Homo sapiens: one gene and its partners. The protein of the gene in region 4 interacts with the protein of the main gene of each other region in a pairwise test. Each region holds a gene or a part of one and is shown on either strand. Other genes may lie near its edges.

Evidence for each region.
Region 1: the proteins of SDC4 (region 4) and MAL interact in binary tests that used the Homo sapiens proteins (3 or more experiments, as listed by UniProt).
Region 2: the proteins of SDC4 (region 4) and PMP22 interact in binary tests that used the Homo sapiens proteins (3 or more experiments, as listed by UniProt).
Region 3: the proteins of SDC4 (region 4) and SGTA interact in binary tests that used the Homo sapiens proteins (3 or more experiments, as listed by UniProt).

What each region holds. Positions count from the first base shown.
Region 1 is NC_000002.12:95,021,534-95,029,048, forward strand, and holds the start of MAL (myelin and lymphocyte protein), read left to right. Parts: upstream 1-4,174; 5' UTR 4,175-4,259; coding exon 4,260-4,352; intron 4,353-4,806; exon of another isoform or gene 4,807-4,900; intron 4,901-5,025; exon of another isoform or gene 5,026-5,496; intron 5,497-7,515. UniProt on the Homo sapiens protein: May be involved in vesicular trafficking from the Golgi apparatus to the cell membrane. Plays a role in the maintenance of the myelin sheath, and in axon-glia and glia-glia interactions.
Region 2 is NC_000017.11:15,262,327-15,270,039, reverse strand, and holds the start of PMP22 (peripheral myelin protein 22), read left to right. Parts: upstream 1-4,713; 5' UTR 4,714-4,886; intron 4,887-7,487; exon of another isoform or gene 7,488-7,615; intron 7,616-7,713. UniProt on the Homo sapiens protein: Might be involved in growth regulation, and in myelinization in the peripheral nervous system.
Region 3 is NC_000019.10:2,780,270-2,788,451, reverse strand, and holds the start of SGTA (small glutamine-rich tetratricopeptide repeat-containing protein alpha), read left to right. Parts: upstream 1-5,178; 5' UTR 5,179-5,219; intron 5,220-5,704; exon of another isoform or gene 5,705-5,882; intron 5,883-8,182. Other genes in the region: THOP1 (thimet oligopeptidase), read right to left, coding at 2,774-2,789. UniProt on the Homo sapiens protein: Co-chaperone that binds misfolded and hydrophobic patches-containing client proteins in the cytosol. Mediates their targeting to the endoplasmic reticulum but also regulates their sorting to the proteasome when targeting fails.
Region 4 is NC_000020.11:45,345,170-45,353,432, reverse strand, and holds the start of SDC4 (syndecan-4 precursor), read left to right. Parts: upstream 1-5,008; 5' UTR 5,009-5,048; coding exon 5,049-5,108; intron 5,109-8,263. UniProt on the Homo sapiens protein: Cell surface proteoglycan which regulates exosome biogenesis in concert with SDCBP and PDCD6IP.

The DNA of each region.
Region 1 (7,515 bases), on a different chromosome or scaffold from region 4:
TATCAGGGCTGAGGCCTTTGGGAGGTGATTAGGTCATAAAGATGGAGGCCTCATGAATGGTATCAGTGTCCTTAGAAAAGTGGCCCCAGAGAGACCCTTCACCTCCTCCACCCTGTGAAGACACAGCAAGAAGGTGCCGTCTGTGAACCAGAAAGTGGACCCTCAACAGACACGGAATCTGCAACACCTTGATCTAGGATTTCCAGCCTCCAGAACAGTGAGAAACAGGCTCCTGCTGTTGACAAGCCTCCTGGTCTACCGTAGTTTATTACAGCAGCCCGAACAGACTAAGACACCGTCTCTGAGCACTTTGCCTGCAGTCATGGACAAAGCATGCCCAGCACAGGCCCTGACCAGGTGCCTCTCAGCCTCACGTGCTGTCCCTCTTGGAAAGAGCTCTCCTAGGGAGCAGGGACTCTGTCTTTCCTACTCACACACCCTCTACCCTCCATCCCCATCCACAAGTCACCCAGACAATGCCAGCCTGTTTTGTGCTCAGAATATCATGAGGACTTTGTCGGACAGTGGCAGAGTGCCACATCTCCCTGGTTCTAGAAAACATGATCCTACAAGAGGGTGGGGAAAAGAGCACATGCGGATCATTGTCCCTGGAGGCAGTGGGCACACGGAGCCCATGGCCCATCAAAGGACAGTGCCCTGGTGAGCAGCCACCACTTCAGATTTTCCAGTTTGTGGATTTTGTGCAGTAGACACAGAGCCTGCCTGCTGGAATCAAGAGGCCTAGTCACCAGCCATGTGGCCTGCGCACATTACCTCCCATTCCTAGCCTGTATGTTGGGTGACACCCACCAGCAAGCCTCTGTGGGATTAAATGAAGCCATGCAGGCAAAGTGCCTGTGGCAGTGCTGGGACTCAGCAAGCCCTCAGTAACAGGTTCCCCTCCTGCGCTGACGCCATGGCAGCTGTGGCTGCCATTCCCCCATCCGCCAGCAGGTGCCCTCACTGCTTCATGCCTTCTATGGAACCCAGGGCTGTGGGTGACTGTGTCTGTGAGAAAAATAAAATCCCTAGGGGGAAGTGCGCGTTCAGGGTAGCTCTCTGAACTCATGTCGGCACCCGGCCTCGCCATCCATAAATGGGGATGATGACCCCCACTTCCTTGTGTTCCCAGAGGTGAAGGTCCCAAGCCCTGTCCACCAGGGCAGGTGCCTGGGGCCACACCTGAGATGACCATGAAGACTGGATTTGGGAGGCTGCCGATGTCTGCATGGAGCTGGCATTTGACTGGCAATTGCCCATCTTGAGCAGGGTTTTCATCGAGGGCTCGGAGCTTTAGAGGTGCAGCGTCACTCAGGTTCAAGGTGCTCAGCAACTCTGTGCCCTTGGGCAGCTACTTAACACTTCTGAGCCTCTGTTAGCTCATCAGTAAAATGGGAGTCATCTTACCTACCTCAAAAACCAATGCACCTACTGTTACGGATGGGCAACTCCTGCCCATTAATCTTTCCCTGAACACGTCCCTCTCCCCACAATCTCCTCCCTCCCCCTGAACACACACAAACTGGAGGTGGTAACCTCTTCCTTCCCCAGGCTGGCTCTGCAATGGCAACTTTCCAATTCCTACTTTGTGGAAACCCACCCAAGGCCACGTTATTAATATTTGACAGAAGCCCCAGACCCACCCTCTTATTCACACCCACTGGGAAGACCAAGGATACTCACTGAGTTATTATTGGCTGAAATTATTTTTTCATATCCTGCTGGAAACCAAAATATGGTCCTGGGCTTCTGATAAGTATCAACCACCTCATTCACCAGCAGGTGGCCCAGAGCACCTGCAGAAGCTGTGCTGGGGAATGAAGACAGGCCCATCTTTACTTACCAATGCCTCTCTCTTACCAATGTCTCTCTCTCTCACCAATGCCTCTGTTTTACAAATGCCTCCTCTCACCAACGCCTCTCTCTCTCTCTCTCACACACCAGTGCCTCTCTCTCACCAGTGCCTCTCTCTGTCTCACCAACGCCTCTCTCTCACCAATGCCTCTCTATTTACCAATGTCTCTCTATTACCAGTGCCTCACTCCTCACCAGTGCTTCTTACATCCAAACAGGGCACTTCCATGTCCTCCTCTGGTGGTCAAGCACAGACAAAGCTGGAGTCATCCACCATTGGCTAAGGTTTAATGAGCACTCACCAGAGGCTGGGCTCTGCTTGGGTGCTGAGCATATGCTAGGGTGGGGAAGGAGAGGGGCAGATGGGGGTGGCTGGAGGATGCCCTGCCGAGGGTAGAGTCTGGTCAGGAAGATGAACGTCGAGCGGAGAACTCCAGGTGGGAGGAGGGGGTCACAGAGATAGGGACAAACCCCCTTGACCCTGGCCGGGCTGCCTTCCTCATCCTCTGAAGCCTCTTTCAGAGATTGCTGCCCCTCTGCCTTATCAAAGGAGGGCTGGGACTGCTGAGCTCCACTGAGTTGCCCCTGGGAGCGAGCTTTCCCCAAAGGCTCAGGCCCAAGTAGGAATGAGTTAGCAACAAAGGCTTGAAATAAGTAGGAAATCACCAAACCAAACCACAAACAAAAGCCCTCCAGGCCAGGTAAGGACATTATTAGGAGTTGATAGGATCTTCTTGTTCTTAATTAGTATGTGCTGATAGGAAATCTCCAAGCAGCTTTCGCTGGACTGCCTGAGGGTCATCTCACCTCTCTTCAGGCTGCGGCTTCCTGTGGCCACCTTGCTTTAAGGCTTGTTCCCAGGACGGTCTCCTGGGGAGGAAGAAGATGTCCTCTCAGAGGCCAGCAGGTCCAACTAACGAGCTATGAGATGCCCAAGGTGGATGAGGACCTGGGCTCCTAAAGTCCCACAGCCCATTGTGTCCAGAGAGATGCTGCCCTGGGGACCCGACACAATGGCACCTTGGTTGCAGCCGTCCGGGCTGGCAGCTCACAGAGGCACAGTGGGGTTTTCTCATTTCAAATGCCTGGCCCCTTTCCAGAGGCACTTAGAATGGCCAGCTGATGGGCGTGCTACTTTTGCTTTGGAAAATGCGTCCACGAATATACTTCTCTCCCTAGGGACTGGGAAGGAGGAAGAATTGTGCAGCAGGGAGAGGTGAAGGCCCCACTGGAGAGAAGGGGAGCCCCTTGTCCTGCCTGCAGCAGCTGCCAATGGAAAGAAAGAAGAGTTGGGAGTCTAAGCTGGAGGTTGCGGGGCCAATTCCCTTTTGGCAGGCGAGAATCCGGACTCGGGCGGATTTCAGGCTTCAGTGTTTGTAGGAGGAAACACAGCAATCACACTATTAATAGTAAATTAAAATAAATGGGCAACTGCTGCATGGTAATACTTTTTTTTTTAAGGCAAAAAATAAAAAATAGTGAAACAGAGAAACAAAACATGAAACACCGGCAGTCAACAGGCAGGCAAAGAACCTGGGGGTGGGGGTAGCAGCGGTCCCACCCTCAAAAGGCCCGGGCTGCCCAGACCAAGAGAAAGCGATGAATCTCTTCTGGTAACGTCCCTTCCTGTCGCATGGATTCAAGGCCGACCTGCCCCAGCACCACCACCAGCAGCCTTCTGCTGGGGCCGGCACAGCTGGGAGCAACCTCCTACTCTCAGGCAGACGCGCAGCACCAAGCAGAGAGGCCCGGTGCAGGATCCCAGCGCCGAACCAGCGCCGGCTCAGTGGACGCGGAAGGGGCCGGCGGCCGCGGCCGGTCCCATCCCCCACTGCAGACCCCCAGCCTGTGGCGGTGGTCCAGTTCCGCCAGGAAACCGCCGCCTGGAGCTGTGGGTCGCGCACATTAACGCATCCAGCGGAAAAATGAAGGAGACCCAAATTCAAAGTTAAAGTAATGGTGACCCGAGAGGTGCCTTGATGAGAAGGTTTGGGGTCCCGGTTACTGATGGTTATCATTCTTACGAGATGCTGGTCACCTACGAAGGGAGAAAGGCACGAGGAGCGCCTGACCAAAGTGGTTTTGCCCTGCTTCCCGCAAGAGGTGGCACCCACGGCTGGAACGCAGGAGTCAGACCCACAGTCCCCAGCTCTGGACGCCCGCAGCGGGGCCTCGAAGAGGTTCAGGGCGGTGCCCGCGGCGCTCGGGCCGGGTCTCCCGGGGCGTGGGGCGGGGGGCGGGGTTGGGCGGCGGCCGGGGCTCCTCCCTCTTCTGCCCCGGGCTCCCCTGCTCTTAACCCGCGCGCGGGGGCGCCCAGGCCACTGGGCTCCGCGGAGCCAGCGAGAGGTCTGCGCGGAGTCTGAGCGGCGCTCGTCCCGTCCCAAGGCCGACGCCAGCACGCCGTCATGGCCCCCGCAGCGGCGACGGGGGGCAGCACCCTGCCCAGTGGCTTCTCGGTCTTCACCACCTTGCCCGACTTGCTCTTCATCTTTGAGTTTGTGAGTGGCTCCTGGCCGGGGAAGGGACGGGGTGGGCTGAGCCGTGCGCTCTCTCGGGCGCCCAGCACAGCTGTCGGACGGGATCCGCTAGCTGCGCAGGTTCTGGGAGCATCGGGGCAGCAGGCGCAGGGCGGGGACTAAGCCAGGGAAGTCCCCTCCCACCTCCGGTCCTTTGTGCCCTTCTAGACCAACAGAATGAGGGGAACAGTCTACAGGACTATGGAGGAAAAACTGGGTTCCCAACTGGGGTCAGATGTAGGCAGCGGGGCAGGGGGGGACGGCTCTTGGTTCGCTGGTCCCAAAGCTGCGCGCGGGGCCCACTTGACGCGCGCAGCGCCACCGAAGCTCCCGCCGCGCTTTGCGCGGTTGGGTAGAAGTGCGCAGCTTTTACAAGGGAGAAGGTTTCGTTAAAAAAGAAAAAAAAATCAGCAAGAGAAACATTAGTATTACCAACCGAGATTTGGAGATGAGAGGGAGCTGAATCCGGTTTATTTTCTTCTGGCCTTTTAAAGTTTCTGGCGAGGGAACGTATTTGCGACCAATTCGATCTGGAAATGAGGCCATCGTTTGCTTGGCCGCAGTCCTTCTGCCCCGTGTGCGGGGTGGGGGTGGAGGAGATGGGGGGTGGGGGGTGGGGGGTGGCGGCGAGAGCGATCCGCGCGCCTCGACTGACCTTGGGCAGGCCCGGGGCCTCTGCACCTGCGGTCGGTCCCGCCTTGCACGCACGGTCTCTGCCTGAGGCTGCAGGAAAGCGCTTCCTACTGAGAACTCCTGATAAGCGCTCACGGTGTCGCGAAGCCGAAGTGACCTCCCTCAGCCTCAACTCCCCGGGGGCCGCTGGCCTTCACCTGGGAGGGGTGTGCCCTGTATGTCCTGTGGGTGCGGTCCGTCACCGCCTGAGGGACACCTTTTCCGGCACCCCACCCTCAGAAGTGTCAGCGTGGAGAGTTGGGCGGGAAAGAAAATGTCGGAGCCTGGCTGTTTAAAAATTGGACCCCAGGTTGTTATTGCCTGATTGGAGGGGGAGGGTGTGAATACCAAAGGGAGCAGGTCAGTTCATCCAAAGAGGGCTTGCGGGCAGAGGCTAAGAGGGCTGCGGCGGCCTGGGAGCAGGGCTACCATTGAACTTAGGGTGAAAGTCCAGTCGAACCCAAACCTGGGTGGAACCGGTGACTTGAAATCCTAGGGATAGGCGGAATCAAAGCAGTTACATTTAGAAGAAACCCTGGACGCCAATGAACGCAGCCCCACCGTTTACAGAGAGCCAGCCCCCCGCTGGCCTCCTTTTAGAAGTTCAGCATACAAGAAGGAGTGCCCCTGAGAGTAGGAACAGTCCAGTTAGACGGGGCGATCTGATCTGCGGGAAAGGTGACCGGAGACTCCCACCCAACCCGCCAATGCTGCAGAAATTACAGGGGCGTGGGAAACCTTGGAACCATCTACTACTGGCAGCTTGCTCTTCCAGCGTGGCTTTGTGGCCTGCCGGTAGCGGGGCTTCCAGAAGAAACAACTCCCCCTCGCCCAGAACGCTTCTCTCAGCTGACTTAGAAAGTCACTTCTCCACCTCACCCCTGTTCCCCACCTCCCTTCCTCACTTCCCAGGAGACCCGCAATGCATAGTCATCTCCAGGCATCTTCCACATGCTCTAGATTAGGGGTGGGCTCGCAGGTGCCTGGGAGAGAAGAGGAGAAAGCTGACCCCAAGCCTCTCAGTTCTCCTCTGCATGGACTGTAAATACGAAGCTGTATATATTTGATGTGTGGAAGGAGTGGAGAATTAAAGGGCCTGAGAAGGCGCTGGCCACCCCGGGAGAGTTTTTGTTTTTGTTTTTGTTTTTGCTTTTGAGACGGAGTCTCGCTCTGTCGCCCAGGCTGGAGTGCAGTGGCGCGATCTTGGCTCACTGCAGGCTCCGCCTCCCGGGTTCACGCCATTCTCCTGCCTCAGCCTCCCAGCTACTCGAGAGGTTTTTTTAATTATGGAATATTACAACTCGACAACAAAAAGACAACCCAATTAGAAAATGGACAATGGACTTGAACAGAGGTTTCTACAAAGAAGATACACAAATGGCCAATATGCACATAAAAAGATGCTTAACATCATCAGGCATTAGGAAAACTAAATTGAAACCACAATGAGGCCAGTTGCGGTGACTCACGCCTGTAATCCCAGCACTTTGGGAGGCTGAGGTGGGTGGATCACCTGAGGTCAGGAGTTCGAGACCAGACTGACCAACATGGTGAAACCCCATCTCTACTAAAAATACAAAAAAAAAAAAAAAAAAAAAAAACCCGGCTTGGGTGGCTCATGCCTGTAGTCCCAGCTACTCAGCAGGCTAAGGCATGAGCATCGCTTGAACCTGGGAGGCAGAGGTTGCAGTAAGCCGAGATCATGCCGCTGCACTCCAGCCTGGGCAACAGAGTGAGACTCGGTCTCAAAAAAATAAATTAATAAGTAAATAAATTAAATAAATAGAAAGAAAGAAATCACAATGAGATACCACTTCACACCCATTAGGATGGCTACTATCCAAAAAACGGAAAACATCAAGTATTGGATGTGGAGAAATTGGAACCCTTGGTATGCCACTGGCGGGAATGTGAAATGGTTCAGCCACTGTGGAAAACAGTTTGGTGTTCCCTCAAAAAATTACCCTCTGACCCAGCAATTCCACTCCTGGGTATATAACCAAAGGATTCCAAGCAGGGACTTTAGTATTGGCACATGCATGTTCATAGCAGCAGTCTTCACAATAACACACAGCCCAGTGGCCATCAGCAATGAACTGAATAACAAAGTGCGACATATCCAAACAATGGATACTACCTGACCATAGAAAGGAATGAAGTACTGATACGTGCTACAAAGTTGATAAACCTTGAAAACTCTATGCTAAGCAAAAGACACAAGGCACAAAATGTCATATAGTGTATGATTCCGTTTATATAAAATACTGGAATAGATAAATCCATAGAGACAGAACACAAACCCTGGTGGTTTGCCAGGGACCAAGGGGAGCAATTGTTTAATCGCTATGTGGTTTCTTTTTGGGGGTAATGAAAATGCTTTGGAATTAGATTGAGTTGGTGGGTGCACAACACCATGAATGTACTAAATGCCACTGAACTGTCAACTTAAAATGATTGGTTTGATGATATGTGA
Region 2 (7,713 bases), on a different chromosome or scaffold from region 4:
ATATTTCCTAGTCTAACAATGAAGAGTAAACATTCTTGAAGTTTTGCCCGGCTTTCCCTTGAACGTCTCGAAAGGATTTGACCTTTGTCTGTGAACTTCCCTGGATTAGCTGAGGTTTCACACTTGATAAGTGGTGCAGGAACTCAGAGATGAAGAAAACATCTGGTCTCCAGTTCATTTTAAGTACAACTGGTGCTCCCTAGGCTCAGAAGTGCACACAGAATGATGCATTGTGGGGACTATGATGCGTCGTGGGGCTTGTCCTCCCAGGGTCCCATCCAGGACCGTTTGCGTTCACCTCGTCCTTGCTGGAGATTAATGCTCCATTTCTTGGTGTGGCTTCGACTGCCTGAAGCAGGCATTTCCTTGGGTTACATGGGCCTTCCTGTGCACCTCTCTCAATAAGGACAATCTCTCACATCAAGCCAAGGCTGCTTTTCTCGACATTTCTATGCCTGGTCTGCAGTGGCCTAGAAAATCCCTGCATTCCTCCCCATTCCGTCCATTCCCGTGTGGCAAGATTGCTCTGCTTCCCCATTTTATTTGAACCTATGCCCTACTGGAGCAGAAGCATTTTCACTTAGGAGTAAACAGTCTTAGAAAAGTTTTAGAGTTTGCAATCCCAAGTACACATCCATTTCTGACTCTTGCTTAAATTGCTCCCCAATCCTCTAGCTGCTAACTCATGAGATGTCAGAGAAAAGACTGCTTTCCCCCCTCCACTTGCATCTGTGGAATCTGGCTTTCCTAAGCAACAATGCATTTGTGAACAGAGAATCCTTTGTACTTGGTCTGGTCCCACTGCCACAACATAATAATTCTGTGACTTCTCTCTCCCACAGGTGAAGGAGTTAATATACAATTTACTCCAAGATACCTTTCTATATTTTAAAGATGTCATTTAGGGAACAGTCCTGTGCCAATGTGAGTTTTTTTTTGTGTGTGTCTTTATGTTGCTTTCTGACTGCGTCTGTGTTGTTCATAAAGAATATCTTCTAGGGATTGGGACCTGTCATAATTTCAAACTTGCTTATTTGTAGAAGATTCTGTCACAGAAGTCAAACTGGCTCCTTCTGTTCCTTTTCTTCTCCCTTCTCCTTCTCTTCCCTCCCCTCTTCCTATCTATATCTCCCTCCCTCCCTCTCTCCTTCCATCTTTCCTTCCTTCCTTCCTTCCTCCCTCCCTCCCTCTTTCCTTCCTTCCTTCCTTCCTTCCCCTCTGCCTTCTTTCCCTGCCTTGCTTGTTCTTTCAACAAGCTGCTCTCACTCGACATCAAAACAGTCTAGCTGAGTCTAGATGAGGCAGGACTGACTTTTGAGGACCCTTCCAGGCCAGCTGTGTCCAGGGCTGGCCAAGAACTCCCACACAGGCTGCTGGCTATGAGGACACAGGAAAGACTTCATTCTTAGTGTAAACACTTTTCAGATATTGACTGAGCACCTGGTGGGATAGATGCTGCAACAACAACTTCATCACCTGGACAAACACCAAATTCAGACTTGCCTCTGGTTTTCTCTCTGGGGAGCCTGCACAGTGAAAAAATTACAGGTTTGGGAGTCAGAGGAATGGACTTTTTTAAGCCCCAGCCCTGGCATTCACTAGCTAGTCCCTGGAGGAAACACTGTAAATTTTCCAAGCCTCAGTTTCTTCACATAGAAAATGATTATAATGATTCCTCTTAAATAAGATACTGCCATATGTTAACAGCATTTTATTAGCTATAAAGTGCGGAAGGGTTTCCTCCCTCTTCAAGAGTCTGCTGGGATTCCACTGTCATGGACAACATTTCATTCTTATGAAATTAAAATCTCACCTACAGGCAGGATTCTGCCAGTGCTTATGCTATACAGACATATGGAATGCAAATGTCCTCGGAGGAGCACACAGCCTTGTTGGCAGGATGAGACAGGATTCTTGAAAGCTGTACTAAATGTGACTGGTGCTGAAAAAAAAATGGATGTCTTAGGATATGTTCTTGCTTTTTAATGGAAAAAGAAACGTGAATGCATAAATATGTATAATGTGAGAATATCTTTCATACAAATAGGACATTAAATGATAGTGTCTATGGAAGCATGATGAGAAGATATGCTAGGAACGTGCTGGGCACAATTAGGGGCACGGTAGAATGTGAGATAGTCCAGGCTGTGAGTACGGGATCTGTAGCCAGAATGCCTGGTTGGAATCCAGCCTCTGTCATTTCTTTGCAGTGTGTCTTGAGAAAGTGACTGAACATCTCGCTGTGCCTCAGTTTCTCCCTCTTCTAAAAGAGGATGATGGGGTGCCTATTTCATACGGTTGTGAGGATTAAGTGATTTGATGCATATAAAATATTCAAGATGGTGCCTGGCATATGCTAAACACGAAGTAAATATAACCTATTATCATCATTATCAAGGACTTGCGGATAACTGATGCTACTGAGCCGATGGAGCGTGGTGTAGCAGAACAGCTCAGGTGCTAGAAATAGCCAGTCTCATTGACTCAACTGTGTTTCCTCAGAGAATCCCGATTCTCATTTTTCCTATCTGTAAATGGAAGGGAGGATAGCAAATAATAATAAATGTTATTTGGTGACTATTCTATGTGTTTATTTTGCAAGAGGCTCAGTGGGATATAGCCTACAGCTTTGCAGAGACATTGCTCAACACAGATGCATGGGATAGGGGTCCCATTTGGCTGAGAAAAGGTTATTGGAAATGGGAGACGAGGAAGGAGTTTTCCTCACCTGACTCTGGGAAGGGAAGAGAGTCTGGCCCAGATGGGTAAAGACAAGTGTGTTGGCATCTGGTAGACAGGGCCAGTGGCACACAACAGTGAACAGCTCTACTGCTGACAGCCAACAGGGACTTCGGGGTTTGGCTGCTGGAGATGGAGGACCTGGGCAAAAGAGACGTGAGGCCAAGAGAGCAGGTCTCAGAATGTGGAGCTCATGGAAGGAGAGAGGGAGGGCTAATCAGACTGCTCCTATCTGGCCAGAAGCCATGCCCCACACTCACCAGGCCCTACCCCTTTTCCTCTGAATCTTTAGCTCTTAGATCAGAAATAATCTTACGTGTCTTCAGGCTTGATCCTGGCCTGACGGACAGCAGCCTCTGTCGTGTAGCCTTTGGAGCTGATCATGGCAGTACCCAGGAAAAGACTGTCTGGAGAGGCTGCAAAAACCATGCTCACTGTTCCCAGTCCCCGTACAGACCATGTCAGAGGAGGACTGAGGGAGGCTCCTCTCTCTCTCTCTCTGTCACACACACGCACACGCGCACACACACACACACAGATACACGCGCACACACACACACCGTTTTGCCTGGCAGAACAGACTTATAACTTGCATAATACTGCAGCAGCCCACACTGTACCTCATCTCCATTTGGGTTCCACAACAGAAGGGAGCTGGAAGGAAATCAGCGACAATCTAACTCCACATGACAACCTGGCTGGACAACGAAACATCCAGCGGGGAGAAAGACACTGGAAATTACCCATACCTGAGCCCCATCCCAAAACACCTGAGTCAGCTTCTCTGACCATGGCCCAGGCTAGGTCATTTGCAAAGCTCTTGAGTGATTCTAAAGAACCACTGCTGTGAAAAATAAAAATGATTTCAGCAAAGAGAGAAAGGTGAAACTATTTTATTGGCACTGGCTGTGATGCTGGCTGTGAGCAGATGCTGGCTGTGGGCAGAACAGGGGAGAGGGCCATTGAGAGGCCCTTGTGACTGGAGAGTCCAATCAAACGTAAAGTGTGTGACAGGGAGGGACTCCTCCAAATTCTGCAGGTCTCTCCAGACTGGGGATCCCTAACACAAGAGGAAGTCTTATGCCCCAAGTGCCAGAATTCCAGGAAACTCATGCAATGAAACCAGTCCTCTTGTGTCAGAGTTTGCAGCTAGAAGCGGTTCAAGGGATGGAGGACTCTCTGGGAGCTGGAGTGGTACGCTGCAAAGAACCTAAATATGCCATAACTTCCTTTACTTCCCTCTCCAAGAATTTCCAATTGCTCTTCCAGCCTATTCTGCCTGACAGGTTAGAAAGTTTTCAATAGTTTTCAATAGAGGTTCGTTTACTTGCATTGAATTATCTCATGAAGGTCAGCTTGATTCGGGCACATTAAAGACAGAGTCGGAAGAACACATTTCCCTAAGTTTTATTCTAATGTACAACACATGTGATCATTTGCGATGGGGTCTAGGCAGACAAGGCAGGTAACAGGGAGTCCTTCCAACCAGGGGTTGGAACAAAGGAGGCTTGATTTGGTGACTCTTGAGACATTTGGCTCACTGCTGTGATGCTGTGAGAGATTAGCTGTGCAATGTTTGGGCTCCTTAAAAGGAAGTTTATTTAAAATAAAACTTACCTGCACGTATGTAACACTGTAGACACAGATCCTTCCCACAGTATATTTAATCTCTGCAGAATTCACTGGGAGGGGAGGGGAGCCAGTGGGACCTCTTGGCTATTACACAGGTTGGCACTTCCAGAGAGAACAGTCTTGGCATCACAGGCTTCAGGCATACTCAAAGCTCTTCTCCCTTCTGATTCCAGTTTCTCCATGCCCTGCAGGGCCTCTTGGGATTATTGTATTCTGGAAAGCAAACAAAGTTGGACACTGTCTCTTTAAATAATAGAGGCTGAGAACCTCTCAGGCCACCATGACATATCCCAGCATTGGACCAGCCCCTGAATAAACTGGAAAGACGCCTGGTCTGGCTTCAGTTACAGGGAGCACCACCAGGGAACATCTCGGGGAGCCTGGTTGGAAGCTGCAGGCTTAGTCTGTCGGCTGCGGGTCTCTGACTGCCCTGTGGGGAGGGTCTTGCCTTAACATCCCTTGCATTTGGCTGCAAAGAAATCTGCTTGGAAGAAGGGGTTACGCTGTTTGGCCGGGTGAGTTTTATTGGCAAACTGTGCCTCTGGGTGATGTGTGCCTATGCTTTACAAGAATTGCCTAATTTCCCACCCCCTGCAAGCCGCAAATGAAAAGGATTGCAGGAGAGATGGTGCATTTGTGTTGGAATTGACTGGAGATTCAGAGGGCTTTTTATATCCTTGGTTAAAAGGTGGATATATACTCTGGCTGGGGAGGTGGGGGGCCATCTGAGAGCATCTAGAAACCCTAATGCATCCAGATTGAAAGGAAGAAAGGAATCTAGATGCTTTTTCCCCCATGGAAAATAGCTGTGCACACACAGCTGGCAGGTGGCCTTGGTAAGCAGGTTAGGGAGAAGCTGCCACCTGTGGCAGAGCCTTGGCCAGCCGGGCTCTGGGTGTGGCAAGCCTGGTCAGCAGGCACTGAGTAGCACTTCCTCTGCCACCATTGAGAACCAGGCAGGAGGCCAGAGGCAGTGAGGGACAGATGGGTTGGGTTTACCTGTCTGGCAGTATATGGTGTGGCTGTGACCTGGGTGGTTATTGATTAAACTATTGGGTTCAAAAGAAAGGAAGAAGCGAGCTGTAGCACCCAATATATGCACTTTTCTGTATGTGTATTAGACTTTATTAAAAAGTTTATTTGAAAATCACAAAGGAAGGGAAAGAAAACCCTGAGTTAGATATGCTCATATTTCTAAAGTGCTTACTTAGAACAGTCCTGAGTATGTTGTGATCACATAAGTGTTGGTTAAATAAATAAATGTCCAAATGGCATAAAACAAAGTAATAATTTCTAGAGCAAATCTAACTTATAAAATGACCTGTGGAGGAAAGAAAACACTGCCATGTCTTTAGACTTTTTTTTCTACTTGCATATGCACTTTCATTTATAAATCTTTATCTATCTATCTATATCTATCTATCTATCTATCTATCTACCTACCTACCTACCTACCTATCAGAGTTACAAGCTACTTTAGTGCAGAGGTGGTCAGGTCTTCCCTGAAAGGTTGATGTGAGAGTTAAATGTGATATAATAATAGTGGTGGCAATTTGGGCACTGGGCCCTTATTATGTTGCAGACACGATGTTAACTGCTTTGTACATATTGTCTCCTTCAATCACCACCATAAACCTTTAAAGCAGGCATTACTATTTCCTTTTGCACCTGAGAAAACTGAAGCTCAGTGAACTTGAGAAATTGCCCAAATTCACAACAAAAGTAAGCAGGGTGATTAGGTTTGTTGGAGCCCAGAGCCAGAGTGCCTAACCACTGCACCATACTGCCTCTCACAGACCATGCATATAAAGTCCAGGCAAAGTGCTTGGCATATAACGGGCACTGTAAATGCAGTGTTTACAAGTACACTTCATTTTAATCTGATAACACGATAGTTTTAAAAAGATCATTGTTTGAAGATCTTTTTCAAATTTATTTTTACTTACCGTAAGAATATACAATTAGCTAAAATAGCAGCTCCTTTCAAATCGTAAAATAATATAGAATTATTTGAATCATTGAGAGTGATGAGCTTCTATGACACAGTACACTAGAGGTAGGGAAGTGTGTGTGTGTGTGTGTGTGCGCGCGCGTGCGTGAACTGCTGCATTTTCAGGCAGAAACCTTTAACATCCACATTCCTGCTCCCTGTCCCGTGCCTCAAGGCTGGCCTGCGCACGGGAGTCTCAGTTGGGCGCGCCTCTGCCAAGCCGAGACTGAAGGGGGCTAGCCTCTCTCCCTGTAACGCTGGGCGGGCCACGTTAGGAGGCTATGAATCAGCTGATTTCCTTGGCTGCTCCAACCCCACCTCAAATGGCCACCTCGCACCCGCCCGCCAAACCCCATGGCCAGGACTCCAGCCAAGGCTGACAGCCAAGCCCGACTGCTGCAGGAACACTTTGCCTAGAGCTTATTCGGTGGTAGTCTGGTTTTGCCTAGGCTAGGAGGAGCCCAATCCCAGACCATGCTATCCAGTAGTCGGCCGGACTTTTCTTCCCCTAATTCGCACCCAAGAGGAGCCCGCTAGATCAATCCCCGCCAATCCTAGGAAGCTGGCATGCTTCGTAGGTGCAGACAGTAATAGCGGGGACCGGCGCGGGGCAGGTGTGTCCGGCTAAGACGCCAGGACAGGGCAGGGGCTCCAGGACCCGAGAGGAGAGGGACTTCTTCCAGCGCTCAAGCGCCCGCTGCCCTCTATTAGTGGGAAAGGAATCCAGCCTCAGCCCCGCGCGGGCGCGGTCGGCGTCGGCGGGCCCAGAAGCCCAGCCCTGGGCATCCGCTGAGCTACATTTGGCTGGGTCTTCCCAGAGTGGGCTGAGGAGCCAGTTTCTCGGTCAACACTAGGTCTCCACGGGGCCAGGGGAGAAGGGAGGTGGGAGGTGAGAAAGCTCAGCCGCCTCTGGTTTCGAGTAAAAGTCGCCGCGGTTTTGCAGGGACCGACTTTTTCTTGAGGCGCATTTAAGGCCAAGTGACTGTCTCCTGCCCTCCCTCTCTCCTGCCCCCTCTCCTCCCTGAGTCCCGCCCTCCCGCACACGCTGACCCAGGGACACACCCTACTGCAGCGACGCAAACAGGGCGTTGTTCCCGTTAAAGGGGAACGCCAGGAGCCTCCCACTGCCCCCTTGCTTCGCGCGCGCGCAGCCCCGCAGCGCAGCTTTGGCGGCGCCAGCAGCGGAGCCAACGCACCCGAGTTTGTGTTTGAGGCCACCCTGAGGATCGGGACAGCTGTTCCTTTGGGCTGTAAGTGATTTGGTGGGGAGAGTGAAGGAGATGGAGGAGAAATGTGGGCATCTTCCAGTGAGGGTGCCAGAAAGCGCAGCGCAGGCGCGGGGCTTTGGCCAG
Region 3 (8,182 bases), on a different chromosome or scaffold from region 4:
GACAATGAAGGCTTTGAACTTCAATCCTGAGTGCAAGGTGGAGCCCTGGAAAGGGACAGGAAGGGGATGGGACAGTGGCACTAACAATCAGATGTGCATTTTTACAAAGGCTGGGGCAGGCACAACAAGCTAGCTCAGAACGCAGAAGCTGAAGTCAGATGGCCTGGGTGCGGACCCCACCTCTGCCAGTTGCTAGTTCTGGGATTCTGGCAAGAAACATTAACTCTCAGGCTTCCCACCTGCAAAACGGGAACAATTCAGGGTGCAGAGAACAAGAACTGTCTAAGAATTCAGTGAGGTATGAAGGCAAAACATCTTGTATCCTGAATACCACCAGAAAGTTTTCAAGAGGTAGCTGTTATTACAGACCATGCTCTCCTGTCCAAAAAGTCTTGGGGCCGGGGACATTTTAACATTCAGAATTTCCCCCCATTGTAGAACAGTATTAATAGAGTCCAAGTGCCATGTATTCCAAATCACTAGGGAGGCTGAGGCAGCACTCCGAAATCAAATTACTCTTTCTGCAGTGAGATGCAGGAATACGCACCAGGGTGTCTCTCTGTCTGCACTGTGGCCATTGGGGCCGGATCGTTTTCTGGGGTGGAGCTGTCCTGGGCACTGCAGGGTGCTGAGCAGCGTCCCCGGCCTCCATCCATTCCATACCAGGAGCGCCCCCCAACTGTGACAACCACAAATGTCCCCAGACACCGTCCAGTGTCCCCAGAGGTAGCACAATCACCCCAGCTGAGAATCAATGATATTCGCTAAGTGGGAAAAAGAAAGGCTCTCAGTCGGTCAGTTGAGGTCATTTTCTGGCCAAATGACTTTGCTGTAAACTTAAGGCAAACCTTTCAGTTTACAGAGTATTTAGGATTTTAGAACTGCAAAAAAGGGACTGTGGATCTACATTAAACCGTGGGGTAAAGAAGAGCTTCAGGGGCTCAGAAAGGATGGAGATGGATGGGAACTGGAACTGTCAGAAAATTCTCCTGCAGGAGTTAGGATTTGAAAAACTTGTGGACGTCAGTTCATCCTGTAAATATTTACTGATTGTGCCAAGGATCCAGTAGCAAACAAGGCAGACAACATTCCTTCCTTCCCAAGGCCTGAATATCCCTGACTATCATTATTACAATTATCACCCTCATCGCAATGGGCTGGACAAAGAGCTGGGGGAGTGTGGCTGGGCAAGAGAAAAGCCAAGGATCAGGCAAGGAGTTGCTTCAACAACCTGAGTGACCTTCTAAAACCCAGGCCGGGCACGGTGGCTCATGCCTGTAATCCCAGCACTTTCGGAGGTCGAAGCAGACGGATCACTTGAGGTCAGAAGTTCGAGACCACCCTGGCCAAGATGGTGAAACCCCATCTCTACTAATAATACAAAAATTAGCCAGGTGTGACGGGCGTGGTGACTCACGCCTGTAATCCCAGCACTTTGGGAGGCCGAGGCGGGTGGATCACGAGGTCAGGAGATGGAGATCATCCTGGCTAGCACCGTCTCTACTAAAAATACAAAAAAAATTAGCTGGGCGTGGTGGCAGGCGCCTGTAGTCCCAGCTACTCAGGAGGCTGAGGCAGGAGAATGGCGTGAACCTGGGAGGCGGAGCTTGCAGTGAGCCGAGATCGCGCCACTGCACTCCAGCCTGGGTGACGGACCAAGACTCTATCTCCAAAAAAAAAAAAAAATTAGCCAGGTGTGGTGGTGGGCGCCTGAAATCCCAGCTGCTTGGGAGGCTGAAGCAGCATAGCTTGAACCCGGGAGGCGGAGGTTGCGGTGAGCCTGTGTGAGCAGAGATTGCACCACTACACCCCAGCCTGGGAGACACAGACTGTCTCAAAAAATAAACCAACAAATAAATAAATAAACAGTACACAGGTCACATCGCCCCTTTGCCTCTAAATTAAAAGGGTCTTGGCTGGGTACAGTGGCTCATGTCTGTAATCCCAGCACTTTGGGAGGCCGAGGCAGGTGGATTGCTTGAACCCAGGACTTCAAGACCAGCCTGGGCAACATGGCGAAACCTCGTTTCTACAAAAAATTAGCCAAGTGTGGTGGTGCAGGCCTGTAGTCCCAGTTACTCAGGTGGCTGAGGCGGGAGGATTGACTGAGTCCAAGAGTTCGAGGCTGCAGGGAGTCGTGATCGCACCACTGCACTCCCGCTTGGGAGACAAAGTAAATAAATAACAAAATTAAAAGGTCCCCTCGTTACGTTCCAGCCAAACTGACTTTCTGCTCTCCAAACACGTTCCCTCCTCCCGGGACGCCTCCTTCCCCGGTCTTGGCAGGACACTTGCTTCTCCCAATCAAGCAAGTCGACGCTCACCTCTTCAGAAAAGCCCCCCAGGAACCACCCTCTCTCTAAAAACGTGTCCCTGGGACTGCCCCGTTCGTGTTTATCTGCACCAGAGCACCGATCCCTCCCTATCTTCGATCCTCTCTTATTTAATTTTTGAATGTCTGTCTGTGGCTCTAGAATTCCAGGAAAACGGGACTGGAGTCGTTAAATCACGGCCTCCCCAGGGTCCGCCACGGGGCCCGACCCATCCGGAAGGGAAGCGCCATCAACTTTGCAGAATGAATGAAGCGCTGGAAAAGCTGGTTCATTCATTCGGCAAACGAGAGAGCAGGGTCGTCCACCTCCCCCGCTGCCCCTCCAGCCCGGCCGAGGGTGGCTCGGGGGTCGCTTCGCTCCAGCCTTAGGCCCAAGTCGCGACCCCGGGAGGAGCGAGGGTGCAGGGGACGCCCGGGTCCGGCGAGCGGGGTAGTCGGTACCTGCGGGGGGCTTCATGGCGGGTGGGTCTGCGCCTGCGGCTCCCTCCCTCCTTCCACCTGCTACGCGTCCAGCCACCTCGGCCACTGAGGCCGCCTGCCTCGGCCCAACCGCCGCCACCGCCGCCACGGCCGCCTGAGGACCAAGGGGCCCGCCGCCCGCGCTCCCGGGGCATGCTGGGGCGGCGCGCGCACAGGGAGGGCAGGACGCACGCGCCCCTGAGCCCCGCCCACAGCTAAAGGAGGAGGGCCGGGAGTGCGCTGGAGCCCTCTGCGCACTCGCCGTAACCCTCCCGGTCCGTTATTGGTCTCGGCGGTGCGTGGGCGGAGCCTCTTGCTCTACCATTCCAGAGCCGCTGGGGTGGCTAGGACGGACGGTTTCCTTGGAAACCGCGCACGCCGCTGACGCCTCTGAGCCTCTGCGCGGCTCATTGCGCTGAGACTTCGCTTGGGCTTCAGGCTACCGCGTTAATGTGTACTTGCCTCGCTTCTTATAGCTGTGTGTTGGGCCAGTGTTATTATTGATCGCTTACTGTATATCCCAGGCCCACTTTCCAGCATCTGAATCCGACGAATCAATTAAATTAACCAGAAGTTTTGGTGCTTTGGTTGTTTTTGAGACGGAGTCTCGCTCTGTCGCCCAGGCTGGAGTGCAGTAGCAGCAATCTCGGCTCACTGCAACCTCCGCCTCCCTGGTTCAAGTAATTTTCCTGCCTCAGCCTTTCCAGGAGCTGGGACTACAGGCGCCAGCCCCCACCCCGGCTAATTTTTGTATTTTTAGTAAAGAGGGGGTTTCACCATGTTGGCCAGGATGGTCTTGATCTCTTGACCTCGTGATCCGCCCGCCTCGGCCTCCCAAAGTGCTGGGATTACAGGTGTGAGCCACCGCGCCGGGCCAAGTTTTTTTTTTTTTTTTTTTTTTTGTCAGAAACAAAAGCAAGTAAACGGATTCATGTCAAATAACAGGTGTTGTGGAACAGTGCAGTAGCCTGACCTACATGCAGTGTTGTGGGTTAAAACAAAAAACATCTTGAACCATCTGTCTTGAACTGTTAGGGCACCCAGAAAAAACAATGTACTACAATTAAACTGGCAAAAACCAAAACAACCGACCTCCTTTCTTCCCTTTTTTTGTTTTTGTTTTGTTTTCTTTTGCTTTGGAGGGGCTGGAGGGAGTCTCGCTCAGTCGCCCAGGCTGGAGTGCAATGGCGCGATCTCGGCTCGCTGCAACCTCTGCCTCTCGGGTTCAAGCGATTCTCCTGTCTCAGCGTCCCGAGTAGCTGGGACTACAAATGCCCGCACCACGCCCGGCTAATTTTTGCATTTTTAGTAGATACAGGGTTTCACCGTGTTGGCCAGGCTGGTCTCGAACTCCTGACATCAAGTGATCTGCCCCCTGGCCTCCCAAAGTGCTGGGATTACAGGCGTGAGCCACCACGGCCGGCCTCACCTCCTTTATTTCTGCAAAAGAAATTAAAATAATCCACGCCATTAATCGTGCATGTATTTTGAGTAGGACGAAAATGAATTGGGAGAACATTTCTGGCAACTGTAACTTAGATGGTGATCAGTTTTCTGTCGTCCTTGGAAATGTCTCATCACATGTCTTGAGCAACACCAAGATTAATTTTACATCGGCGTTCATTTTCGCTGTTCCCTGTGCCTGGGGTCCGTTTGGACTTTCCTATCCTTGAAATCCAAATGTAAAGGATGATCTTTCCTACCCATCCCATGCGACTTAGCTCCCAGTGACAATCACACTACCTTCATTTTTTTTTTCTTAGTGTTTGCTGTGAAATTTGTTTCTCTATTTATGTACTAGTTTATTAGTTTATAGTCCGTCTACCCCAATGCAAAATAATGAGAGTAGACACTTTGCTGGTTTTTATGGCTGCTTTGCAATAAATATTGAATGAATATTAGGCACCTGCTGTCTACAAATGGCTCTATACTCACAAACGTCTCACACTGCATGAAAGAATGCATTTGTGGGTGAGTAGATGGGTGGGTGAATAAATGAACAAAGATAGTAAGCGGGTAACACTGACTCCCATTCATTGCGCAGCTGTGACGCTCTGGAGTCCAGGTGTCCAAACGCGGCTGCACCACGTGGCCGGCCCAGCACCACGTGGTCAGCTCGGCGACCGGCTGGAGTCAGCCACTGTTCCACCGTGCACCGCTTCATTCCCGCTCTAGAGGGCAAACCAGACCCGATTTCCGGCCTCCATTAGGTCGCAGAGGTCAGTTGCCCTAACAACCAGCTGGTTCCCGCCTCTACGTTGCGTCACTTCCTTCCACGCCCGCCTCCATCATTAACGCGCCTGTGCAGAAGGGAAGCAACTCCGGGCGCCTTTCTTTTGCGCAGGCGTCGCGCCCTGGGGCCGGGGCCGGGCGGCACCGCGGTGCGCAAGCGCAACCGTCGGTGGGTCGGGGATCGGTCGCCTGAGAGGTGAGTGAGGGGCACTGCGCTGAGCCTGGTGGGTCTGGGGTCTGCGGCTCGGGGCCCACGGGGCCCCAAAGCTCGTAAGAGTTTGGGGATCGTGAGGCCAGGGTCACCGCGACCCGCGGGGTCCTGTGAGTAGGCGGTGCGGAGGGGAAACTGAGGCCGGGCGCCATCGGGCAGGCCCTTCGAGCCCTGATCTCCCTTCCCCAGGCCCCAGGTCCTGGAAATGCTGGTCCGCGGCCTGGTGGCGAGGACGGCGGGAGGGGAAGGCGCCCCGCATGTAGTGAGCGCTCGCTGGGTGTTCGCTGCCGTTCCGCTCTTATTAACCGCCTGGAAACGTCGTCCCTGTGACTCAGGGACCCCCGTTTGTGGGGACTGAAGTCGGAACTCTGGTTCCAGCGCCGCCAGTCCCTACCTGGGTGACCTTGCCCAGCCTCTTGGCTTCTCGGAGCCTCAGTTTTCCCCTCTGTAAAACGGGCGTTGTTCAAAAGTCCCTGCCTAGGAGAAGGAGAGCCGCAGGGTCCAGCGGAATCTGAGAACTCCAAAGAATTAGCAGGCGTTCGTCTTATATCATGTTTAGAGTCTTCTTCTGCATATCGTGCTAGAGGTGGGGGAAATCTGGGATTCAGGACCGTCCACCACCACCTCCCACCCGCTGTGTAAACCTGGGTGAGTCGCCTTCCCTCTCTGAGCAAACTGTTCCTTCTTTCGCAAACGAGTTGTAAAAGCAGATGCCTCGGAGGGTCATTATGAGGATAAACCCACATTCAATTATTTGATCAGGTGCCTGGAACTTGATAAGAGAGAGCTGGCTTGAGAATAGCTGTTTTTGTTATTAGGTGCCAGAAAATTGCAGTGTAGTGTGCCCTTCAGAGGTTGAATGATTGTCCCATTTTCTTTTGTTTCTGTCTCTGATTATTCCTTTTGTCTGCCTTTTCCCTCCCTTGACCAGTGGTTCTCAACCAGGAACAATTCTGTGCCCCAGGGATTCTTGGTGACATTTGTGCTTGTCATGATTTGGGGGACCCCCTGGTTTGGAGTTGGTGGAGGCCAGGGTTGCTGCTCGGCACCCTGCAGTACCCAGGACGGCCTCACCCCAGAAAATGATCCAGCTTTAAATGTCAATAATGCTTTAAAAACCCTACCATACGGGCTGATGACCTGAGGTCAGGAGTTCAAGACCAGCCTAGCCAACGTGGTGAAACCCCGTCTCTACTGAAAATATGAAAATTAGCTGGGCATGGTGGTGTGCACCTGTAATCCCAGCTACTCAGGAGGCTGAGGCAGGAGAATCCCTTGAACCCAGGAGGCAGAGGTTGCAGTGACCCAACATCATGCCACTGCACTCCAGCCTGGGCGACAGAGCGAGACCCTGTCAAAAATAAAAAAAAAAAATCTACCCTAGATCAGTGATTCTTCACCAGCATGGGCAGCTGGGACTGTGTGGGCCCGGGAAATCGTGTACAAAGTTTTGTGTGTGCACCCAATTTCGTGCAGAGAGAAATGGGTACTTTGGAGTTTAGCTTCTCAAGTCAGACTGCCTGGGTTCAGAACTCCTCATTTTCATCCTCGGAGCTGGGTGGTCTCGGGTGGTCCCCATCTTTCCAAGCCTCAGTTTTTCTTCTGTGGAATGGGGATTATAATAGTAACCACCTCAGGTGTGTGAGGATTAAACCAGGCAAGGTATCAGCAAACTGACCAGAAGGCCAAATCCACCTCTGGCCTGTTTTTGTGAATGAAGGTTTGTAGGAACACAGCCACACTCCTTGGTTTATGCGTTACCTGTAGTTGATTTCGAGCTAAGAAGGCACAGTTGAACAGTTGCCATAGGGAACTTAACGCCTGCAGAGCTGAAGACAATCTGGCCCTTTTCAGAAAAACCTTTGCTGACCCCTAAAATAAGCTATCGCATGTACAGCACTTAACTGGGTGCCTGGAAAGCTGTAAGCACGCCAAGGATTTGAGCTGAGGTTTATAATTAAATCTTCCTAGAAGGGTGAATGATTCCAAATGCGGGTGAGCTCTGCCCCAGATTGGAGGATCCTTGAGAGCTGTCGTCTTACTCAATTCTACATTTTTTCTTTTTTATGCCAAGACCCAACAGTGGCTCTGGTAGGAAGTGCTCAGTACAGGCTGAAGGAACAAAGGGGTGGTTTGAGATAGGGTCTTGCTCTGTCGCCCAGGCTGGAGTGCAGTGGCACAATCTCTGCTCACTGCAGCCTCGACCTCCCAGGCTCAGGCCCTCCCACCTCAGCCTCCTGAGTAGCTGGGACTACAGGTATGCACTACTACACCCAGCTAATTTTTGTATTTTGTTTTAGAGATGGGGTTTCACTGTGTTGCCCAGGCTGGTCTCAAACTCCTGGGTTCAAGTGATCCTCCACCTTGGCCTCCAGAGTTCTGTGATTACAGGCGTGCCCCACTGCACCTGGCCCGTTTTCTCTTTTACTGAGGTGGAAACAGAGACCCAGAGAGAAATGGCCTCCCCAAGGAACGTGACCATGTGGCTGTGAATTTTTCAACAATCGCAGGCTTTCCTGAGTCCATAGGGTTTAGACGCTGCCAGATGCTGGCGTTCAAAGGGAAGATGGGTCTGTCAAGAGATAGAAAGCCTTGTAAGAGATGCTGGGCCAGAGATAGGAGTTTGCAGGAATACTAGATTCTCTCCTGGCGGAGTTGGGCAGGGGAGGTGAGCACTTGAGTTTGAGTGGCATGTACAGGGTTTGGTGTAGGCCCCACAGATGACCCCCAGCTGGTGAGAGGCCTCCTATGCACACTCCTGGGGTTGCAAGGAGCAGTTGAGAGCTTTTATGTGTGCAGCGATCTCCTGGTGGCATTTTAGAAGGAAGTAGGCTTCGATGTGGGGAGTGGGCAGGAGACTGAGCTAGAACTCGGGTATCCTAAGAGGGAGTGAGGAGCAGGGCACCCGGCTCTCCTGCCCTGCTGTTGGTGAGAAGCACCGTGGATTT
Region 4 (8,263 bases):
AAGGAGGATCCCCCAAACATCCTCTTTTTGTGGATATAAAGAAAGAATCTGAAGTTTCTTGCCCCAAAATAATGTATGCAGAGACACATAACCTAGAGGAGTACTGACCATGCATGTGTCCTCTGCCCCCAGTCATGGAGCCCAGGTTAAAGACCCATACATCCACAAATAATTATATTCAAACATGTTGCATCCCTTTAGAGATTCTCAGAACTTGGGGAAGGGGAAATTATTTCCTTAATTCCAGGAGGTTAAGATAGTTTTATAGAAGAACTTCCATTAACTCTCTAAACGAGCTGTTTTCAGTTTTTGTTTTTGTTTTTTTGCTAGTGTACTCTGTAAATGATTATTTTAAGACTAGGTACTCCTTGACATAATTTTTAGTTGATAGCTTAACATTTTTCATCAAAAGTTTAAATAGTTGCAAAGGTTGTAATTTCTGGCATATTGTAAATTTATACACGTAAAAGTAAAACAATTACATCACTCTTTTAAATGTATCCAGTTAAATTAAATGCCCTAGCAATTCGATACCTACAATCATCCATTTAAAAAATACATGAACAAGCTCTTTTCTAAGAGTCAGACATTTTGCATCATTTCTTTTTCTATTTGAAGTCAAATTTCTACTCCATGTTCCACCACAAAATTTTATCATAATGTGTTTTTTTTTAATGCGTCAGAGGCTTACTGATGACTCTTTTAAAAAGTCCTGCAATAATTTAAACAGCTTCATTAAGGTACAACTGGCATAAAATAAGCTATACATATTTAAAGTATACAATTGACATAAATATATGCTTGCTGTGTTAGGCTGTTTGCGTTACTATAAATATATGAGATTGGGTAATTTATAAAGAAAAGAGGTTTAATTGGCTTACAGTTCTGCAGGCTATACAAGCATGGCTCCAGCATTTGCTTCTGGCGAGGGGCTCAGGAAACTTCCAATCATGGCGGAAGGTAATGGGGTAGCAGACATCTCACATGGCATCATCAGGACCAAGAGACAGGGAAGGTGGAGTTCCCAGACTCTTAAACAACCAGATCCAGCGTGAACTGAGAGTGAGAATTCATTTATCACCAAGTGGATAATGCTAAACTATTCATGAGGGATCTGCCCCAGGATCCAGTCACCTCCAGGCCCCACCTCCAACATTAGGAATCACATTTCAACATGAGATTTGGAGGGGACAAACATCCAAATCACATCACTCTCTAAACCAGTCCTACAAACTTTGATAAATAATTATTAAGTAGAAAAAGTAAAGTTGTTTTAGAAATACCTGTCTTAATTAGGTGGCTGTGGCAATTTTTCTCTCCAATTAGCTCACTAAAACCTCCATGAGATTGGGTATAGTCGCTCATGCCTGTAATACCAGCACTTTGGAAGGCCGAGGCACGCGGGTCACTTGAAGTCAGGAGTTTGAGACAAGCCTGGCCAATGTGGCGAAACCCCATCTCTACTAAAAATACTAAAATTAGCTAGGCATGGTGATGTGCACCTGTAATTCCAGCTACTTGGGAGGCTGAGGCACAAGAATCACTTGAACTCAGGAGGCTAAGGTTGCAGTGAGCAGAGGTTGTGCCACTGCACTCCAGCCTGGGTGATGGAGTGAGACTTTGTCAAAAACAAACAAACAAACAAACACCTCAACGAATATTGCTAGAATGAAACAGGTTTTAGCAATAATTTTATTCCTATTTTTCATTTTTTATAGCTGTCAAACCATGGTGTGGTAAAGCCATCTTGTAGTGGTTCATGAAAGTCAATTTTTAGAAATTTTGTGGCTGGGTGCCATGTAATCCCAGCACTTTGGGAAGCTAAGTTGAGAGGACTGCTTGAGCCCAGGCCTTCAAACCCAGCCTGGGCAACATAGTAAGACTGTGTCTCTACCAAAATAATAATAATAATAATAATAATAACAATAACAATAATAATAATAATTAGCTGTGCGTGGTGGCGTATGTCTAGTCCCAACTACTCAGGAGGCTGAGGTGGGAGGATCTCGTGAGCCTGGGAGGTTGAGGCTGCAATCAGCCATAATTTTGCCACTGCACTCCAGCCTGGGCTACAGAGAGAGATCCTGTTTTTTTTTTGTTGCTTTTTTTTTTATGTCATTAGCCAGTTGTTAAACATAACTATTACTAAAAATTAATTTATATGAACATACAATTATATTAAAAAAAAAGGAGGCCGGGTACAGTTGCTCACACCTGTAATCCCAGCACTTTGAGAGGCTGAGGCGGGTAGATCACGAGGTCAGGATATCGAGACCATCCTGGCCAACATGGTGAAACCCTGTCTCTACTGAAAATACAAAAATTAGCCGGGCATGGTGGTGTGTGCCTGTAGTCCCAGCTACTCTGGAGGCTGAGGAGAATCGCTTGAACTTGGGAGGCGGAGGTTGCAGTGAGCCGAGATTGCGTCACCGCACTCCAGCCTGGGTGACAAATTGAGACTCCGTCTCAAAAAAACAAAAACAAAAACAAAACCATAAAGGAAATAAATACTCAAAACTCATCACTTACTAATTATCTCACTACACTTTACTGTTATCCATGCTTTTGAGATTATTTGCACCTATTGTATCTGTGTGGTAGAAATATATCTTCCCAGCTCCATGTTCAGTGACATCTCATTGGTAGCTTGAAATCAGCCATGCTGGTAGTATTTACACTACAGAAATTGGCAAATTAGCACTCGCCACTTCCCCTAGCCAATTGTCAAACATTTACTGGCACACCACTGGCTGTAAGTGCTGAGAAACTTATAAAAGTTGGTAGGAACAGAAGAACTCTTGTTACAACAGTGTGACAATAGATAACTAAAATCACAGTTACCTATTCTATATTTAATGATCTATCTACTGACAACTAGATTAGGCCCCCCTGCAATTTTGTGGAAAGCAAAGATTGCAAACCATTTAACTTGCAAAAGGATTTCTTATTCTGGCATGAGATTTCTTCATTTTCTCAGTTTTGTTCCAAATCCTAGGGAAGCATGTTAAAAACCACTGAAAGTCATTGCTTACCTTTAAATCTGTGGAAACCCCGTGGTCAGCATTTGAAGTTTGCTTTACTGCCAAGGTTCTCTGCCACAAGAGACTTTTATTCTTTGATAATAATTAAGAGGTGGAAAAAGGGAAGTCACTACCAATTCTCCACTCCACAAAGTATATGAATTCATAATATGCCAACAGTGGCCAAAATGTCCTACTTCTAAGGCTATGTTACACCCTTAGAAAGATTTATACATAAGTCAGGGAGAGACAGGGTTAGGCTTCTTTTGTACTTCGATCATCGTAGAATGCCCACCTTCACACCCTGCAATAATTCCAACAGTACGTGTGCTTGGGGACCCAGAGAATTTTACAGTCTCCATATAGCACCCCCCTCCACTTCTTCCCTCAACCTGCTCCCACCAATGCACTGTTAGGAGGATGAAGGGTAAGGAGGACACACAACTTTCTCTTATAAAGGGTGGAAGCTTACCCTAAGAATGGAAATAAACTTGCAGACCAGTTCTCAGAGAGATCAAACTTTTGAAAAAGTTCAAAATCTGGTAGATGAAGCCCTTAGAACAGACGTCAGCCACTCTGAGACCAGCGTCAGAGTGGTCTCAGAGTGGCTGAGGCCCACCGCCTATTTTTGTTCAGCCCACTGCTAAGAATGGTTTTTGCATTTTTATTTTTTATTTTTTTGAGACGGAGTTTTGCTCTGTTGCCCAGGCTGGAGTGCAGTGGGGAGATCTCAGTTCACTGCAACCTCCGCCCCTCGGGTTCAAACGATTCTCCTGCCTCAGCCTCCAGAGCAGTTGGGATTACAGGCGCAGGCAACCATGCCTGGATAATTTTTGTATTTTGTAGAGACGGGGTTTCAGCATGTTGGCCAGGCTGGTCTCAAACTCCTGAGCTCAAGTGATCCGCCGCCTCAGCCTCCCAAAGTGCTGGGATTACAGGCATGACTCACTGCATCCGGCCTGCATTTTTATTATAAAATGTCATTTATTTATTTATTTATTTATTTATTTATTTATTTATTTATTTTTGAGACAGGGTCTCACTCGGTCACCCAGGCTGGAGTGCAGTGAGCGATCATGGCTCACTGCAACTTTCACCTCTCTGGCTCAAGCAGTCCTCCCACCTCAGCCTCCAGAGTAGCTGGGCCACAGGGGTGCACCACAATGCCTGGTTAATTTCTTTAAAAACTTTTTGTAGAGATGGGGGTCTCATTATGGTTGCCCAGGCTGGTCTCCAATTCCTGGGCTCAAGGGATCCTCCTATTCCTCGGCCTCCCAAAGTGCTGGGATTACAGGCGTGAGCCATAGAGCCCAGCCGATTTTTGCATGTTTAAATGGTTGGGAATAAAGTCAAAAGAATAATAATATTTCGTGACACATGAAAATTATATTAAATTCAAATGTCGGTGTCTATAAATAATGTTTTATTAGGACCTAGCTGCCCTCATTCCTTTAGTATTTATGGCTGCTTTTGAGCTACGACGCTCGAGTTTGAATAGTTGCCACAGGGATCGTATGGCCCGCAAAACCTAAAATATTTAGCCCTTTACAGAATAGTTTGCTGTCCCCTGTCTTAACACGGTTCACATCCCATTTGGGAAGTTCTGTGTCTTCAGAGGGGAGCACACCCGGTATGAAGGCTGGTCTAAACTCAACACCCTAGGGAAGTCCTTCCCGTCCCTGGGCCTTAGTTTCCCCAACTATAAAATGGGGTTAGCCGCAGTGATCTCTGGGGACCTGCCTGGCAGTGGGTCAAATAAATAAAGGGAGTTGGAGCTCCCGGAGGGTAGGACTAGGGGTTGAGTAGGAGCCGGCGGGCTCGGGCAGGGCGGGTCCCTTGGGGTTTCCAACTCCGCGGGCGGGCGCAGTGCCCCGCAGGCCTCGCTTCCACTGGGGAATTCCGGGCGGGGTGCGGGCGGCGGGGCGGGGGCGGGCCGGGGCGGGGCCGGTAGGCCGCCTATAAGATGGGTGGCGCGCCCGCCCGGGGCCACTCGCCGCAGCCTGCGCGCCTTCTCCAGTCCGCGGTGCCATGGCCCCCGCCCGTCTGTTCGCGCTGCTGCTGTTCTTCGTAGGCGGAGTCGCCGAGTCGGTGGGTGCTTGGAGGTTCCCGGGCTGGGGGCGAAGCGGGGGCGCAGGCCGGTGCCTCCTTTGTTCGTCGGAGCGTGGGATGGGGGGGGGCAGATCGGGGGTACGCTACCCCCAACCGGACACCGAGGCCCGGGAAACTTTGTTGGAAACTTTGCTCCGGGGTCACGGGCCAGCCTCCGGGATGGCTTCACGCGCCGTGCGCCCCTCGCCTGTTGCTCTTCCCGCCTCCCCGGGCCTCAGCCCCGCCGCGGGCTACGGGCTCGTTAGTGACTAAGCCGGTGTCAACTCTTCAACTCCCACACCCTCGTCCCTTCCCTGGTGACCCTGGGGCAGGCTTGGAGCGCTGAATCCCCTCCTCGCTCTCGGGGCGCCCAGAGCAGACAGCTTTAGGATCCGAGATGGCCCTGGGGGTCGGGGGGCTGCGTGTACTCGGAAGGGGGAGGGTTTTAGGGTTGTGCGAGGCCCTCTTTCACACACCAAGGAGAACTGAGCCCTAACCTCAGTTCTGGCCCCAGCTCTGTCATTGACTTGTGACTTAGGGCAAAGTCCTGCCCTTCTGAATCTCTTCCCAATACTGCACCAAGGGTCTGAGGGAATGGGGCAAGAGGGGACACTGCGTTAGGGTTTCTAGAAAGTTGGGGACTCTGCTCTTTTCGAGGACAGAGGAGAGGAATGGTTTAGACTCAACACTTAGCCAGGAGCTGAGCCTCTGCTTTCTGCAAGAAGTGTGTTCATTTTTTCTCAATTGCAGATAAGAAAATTGAAGCATCCACCTTGAGTGAGGTGAAGGGGGTAGGGGGGAGAGAAGGCCTCAATCAGCCCAGGGAAACCTTTCCTTCTCACTGTCCACTGGCCTCCGTCATAGCTGTCCCTGGGCCAGCAGAAGCTCTATCCATGCCCGCAGCCGGCTTAGGAGGAGGGGGGCAATCTCATCTGGGAAGTTGGGGGGCATGGGAATTACTGGTGAAGGCAATCTGTCCCCCACAGCCTGAGCTTTGTGCCCCCTTTGTGCCCTTTAGCCCCAGTTTTCAGAGCGAGTGAGTCCTTGCAGTTTAACCATTAATGTTAATTTCTTTGAAAGCCTTGGGGCTCCTGTTCCTCTGAATTTACTTAGCGGAAGGTTGATTCTGCCTGCAGGCTCTTCTTGAGGAATGAATGAGACCCTAGGCAATACTTCCAGCACAATTCCAGGCATGCCATGATGATTGCAAACGTGGAGCGCCTTTGTCGGGGGGCCAGACATTGCTCTAATAACTTTCTAATGGGTATATCCAGGAGCTTAATTCCAACAACAATCTTACTGTGTACTGTTCTTAAACTGGTCCTGAGGCTAGAGAGGTTAAGTAACTTGCCCAGGGTCACACAGTTAATACACAATAAATGGGTGAGTCAGATTGAAATTTAGGCAGCCAGGCTTTCAAGTTTCTGCTTTAGCTTAACTTCTACTCTTTGTGCTACTCCAGGTGTCCCATCGTTGGTAACTAAAGACGGGTTTAGAATAGGTTGAGATTTTAGGCTGGAAGGCAAAGGAATTCTGAGGTGGAAGGAAACAAGGCCAGAGTGAGGTGATGACTTAACCTAAACCAAAGGCTACCTTGCCTAAAATGTTAGTGGCTGAGGACCCAAGCCTTCTGCCTCTAGCACAGTGCTCTAAACTAGGCCCTGAAGGATGTGTCGGGTCAAGCAACTGGGGAAGCATCCGAAGGGATACCACCTAGGCAGTACAGGGAAAAAGAGGAAAGGACCCAGGAGGTTGCTGAGGTCACCGTGTGCCCAGTCACATGCCAGTTTCCTCCCAGGGGCTGCTGAGCCTTCAGGTGCTTCAGGGTGCTGAGCAGTCAGCTGTGTCCTGGGGGCATTCTGAAGGATGTAGTTTGGGGGAAGGGGACTGTGTCAGTCCTGCCTGGGTGACCCATCAGCTGCAGGAGACATCAGCCCTGGGCAGCTGCTTCCTGAGATAGGTGTCAAGTCTCATCCTGACCTCAGCTCTCCCCTTCCTGGCTAATGTCACAGACCTCCTGCCTGTAACTGGGGCACAGGGCTTCCCCTTTGGCCTGTCCCCTCCCTCTTTTCTAGATTGTGGTTGGAAAAATCAGACATAGTCACGGTTGGCTCGGACTGAAGAGATGATCCAGCGTGTCCTTTTCTTTTTGCAGGTAGAGAAAAGTGAGGCCCAGGGAGAAGGACTTTGCTAATAGCAGTTAGGAGTGATAGAGTACTTTTTATATGACAGATCTGGTGCATTTTGTCCTCACAAAAAGACCTGTCACATGGGGATTCTATTATGCCCACTTCCCAAATGTGAGAGGTAAAATGGTACTACTTTGGGTTAGTAGAGGGCATCCAGGACCCCAGGATCTCTGACTAGTAGCCCTCCCATTGTGGGTGGTGTTCCCCCGACTGTTCCATCATTCCCCTTACCACCCCCATATTTTGGAAGGGAACCCAGGCTCAGTACCCAGCTGTCCTCTCCTCTGTTTGGCTGGGCTTGCTATACTAAACCAGTTCTTCCTGTCCAGCTGGGAGCATTCCCTGATCTGCCTTCCTGCCACTCCCTCTCAGGCCAATTAAAGGCAGCCTTGTTTTGGGAGTCCCCTCCACCCAAAGGTGTTCCTACCCAGGGGCACAGCCTACTGACTTGGCCCCGGGCCCAGGCGGTTGTGGGGAAGTGTCCCCCACCTATCACCTATCAAGTGTACTTTAGCTTAAGGACATTTCTGGTCTTCTACAGCGTCCTCTTCTTGATTACATGGGAGTAGGGGTGGGGGCGGAAGCCTAGGGGCTTCTAGGACCCTTGAGTGAACAGTGAGAGCTCTTGGGACTTCTTGAGCCCAGGGAGTTATCAAACACCCACGAAAATATTTGGGCCATGATTTGGAGGGTTCCATGAGGTTGGGGGGAGGCCTCTTTCCCCGCTGGGCTGACATCCCCCACCTTAAAATGAAAGGTTTGAACAGGGTAGCCTCCAGAGTCCTTTCCATCTCTCAATTTGATTAATAACTTAAGTACCTACTATTCAAAAGAGGTCTCTCTCTTGAAGGAATTAACTTGAGGGAATTAACATACTCCACCAAATGCTGAATCCCTCCCTCTCTCCCCCCGCACACTGAGGGCAGGAACTCTGCTCTATTTGTTTTTGTGAAATACCTGTCCCCT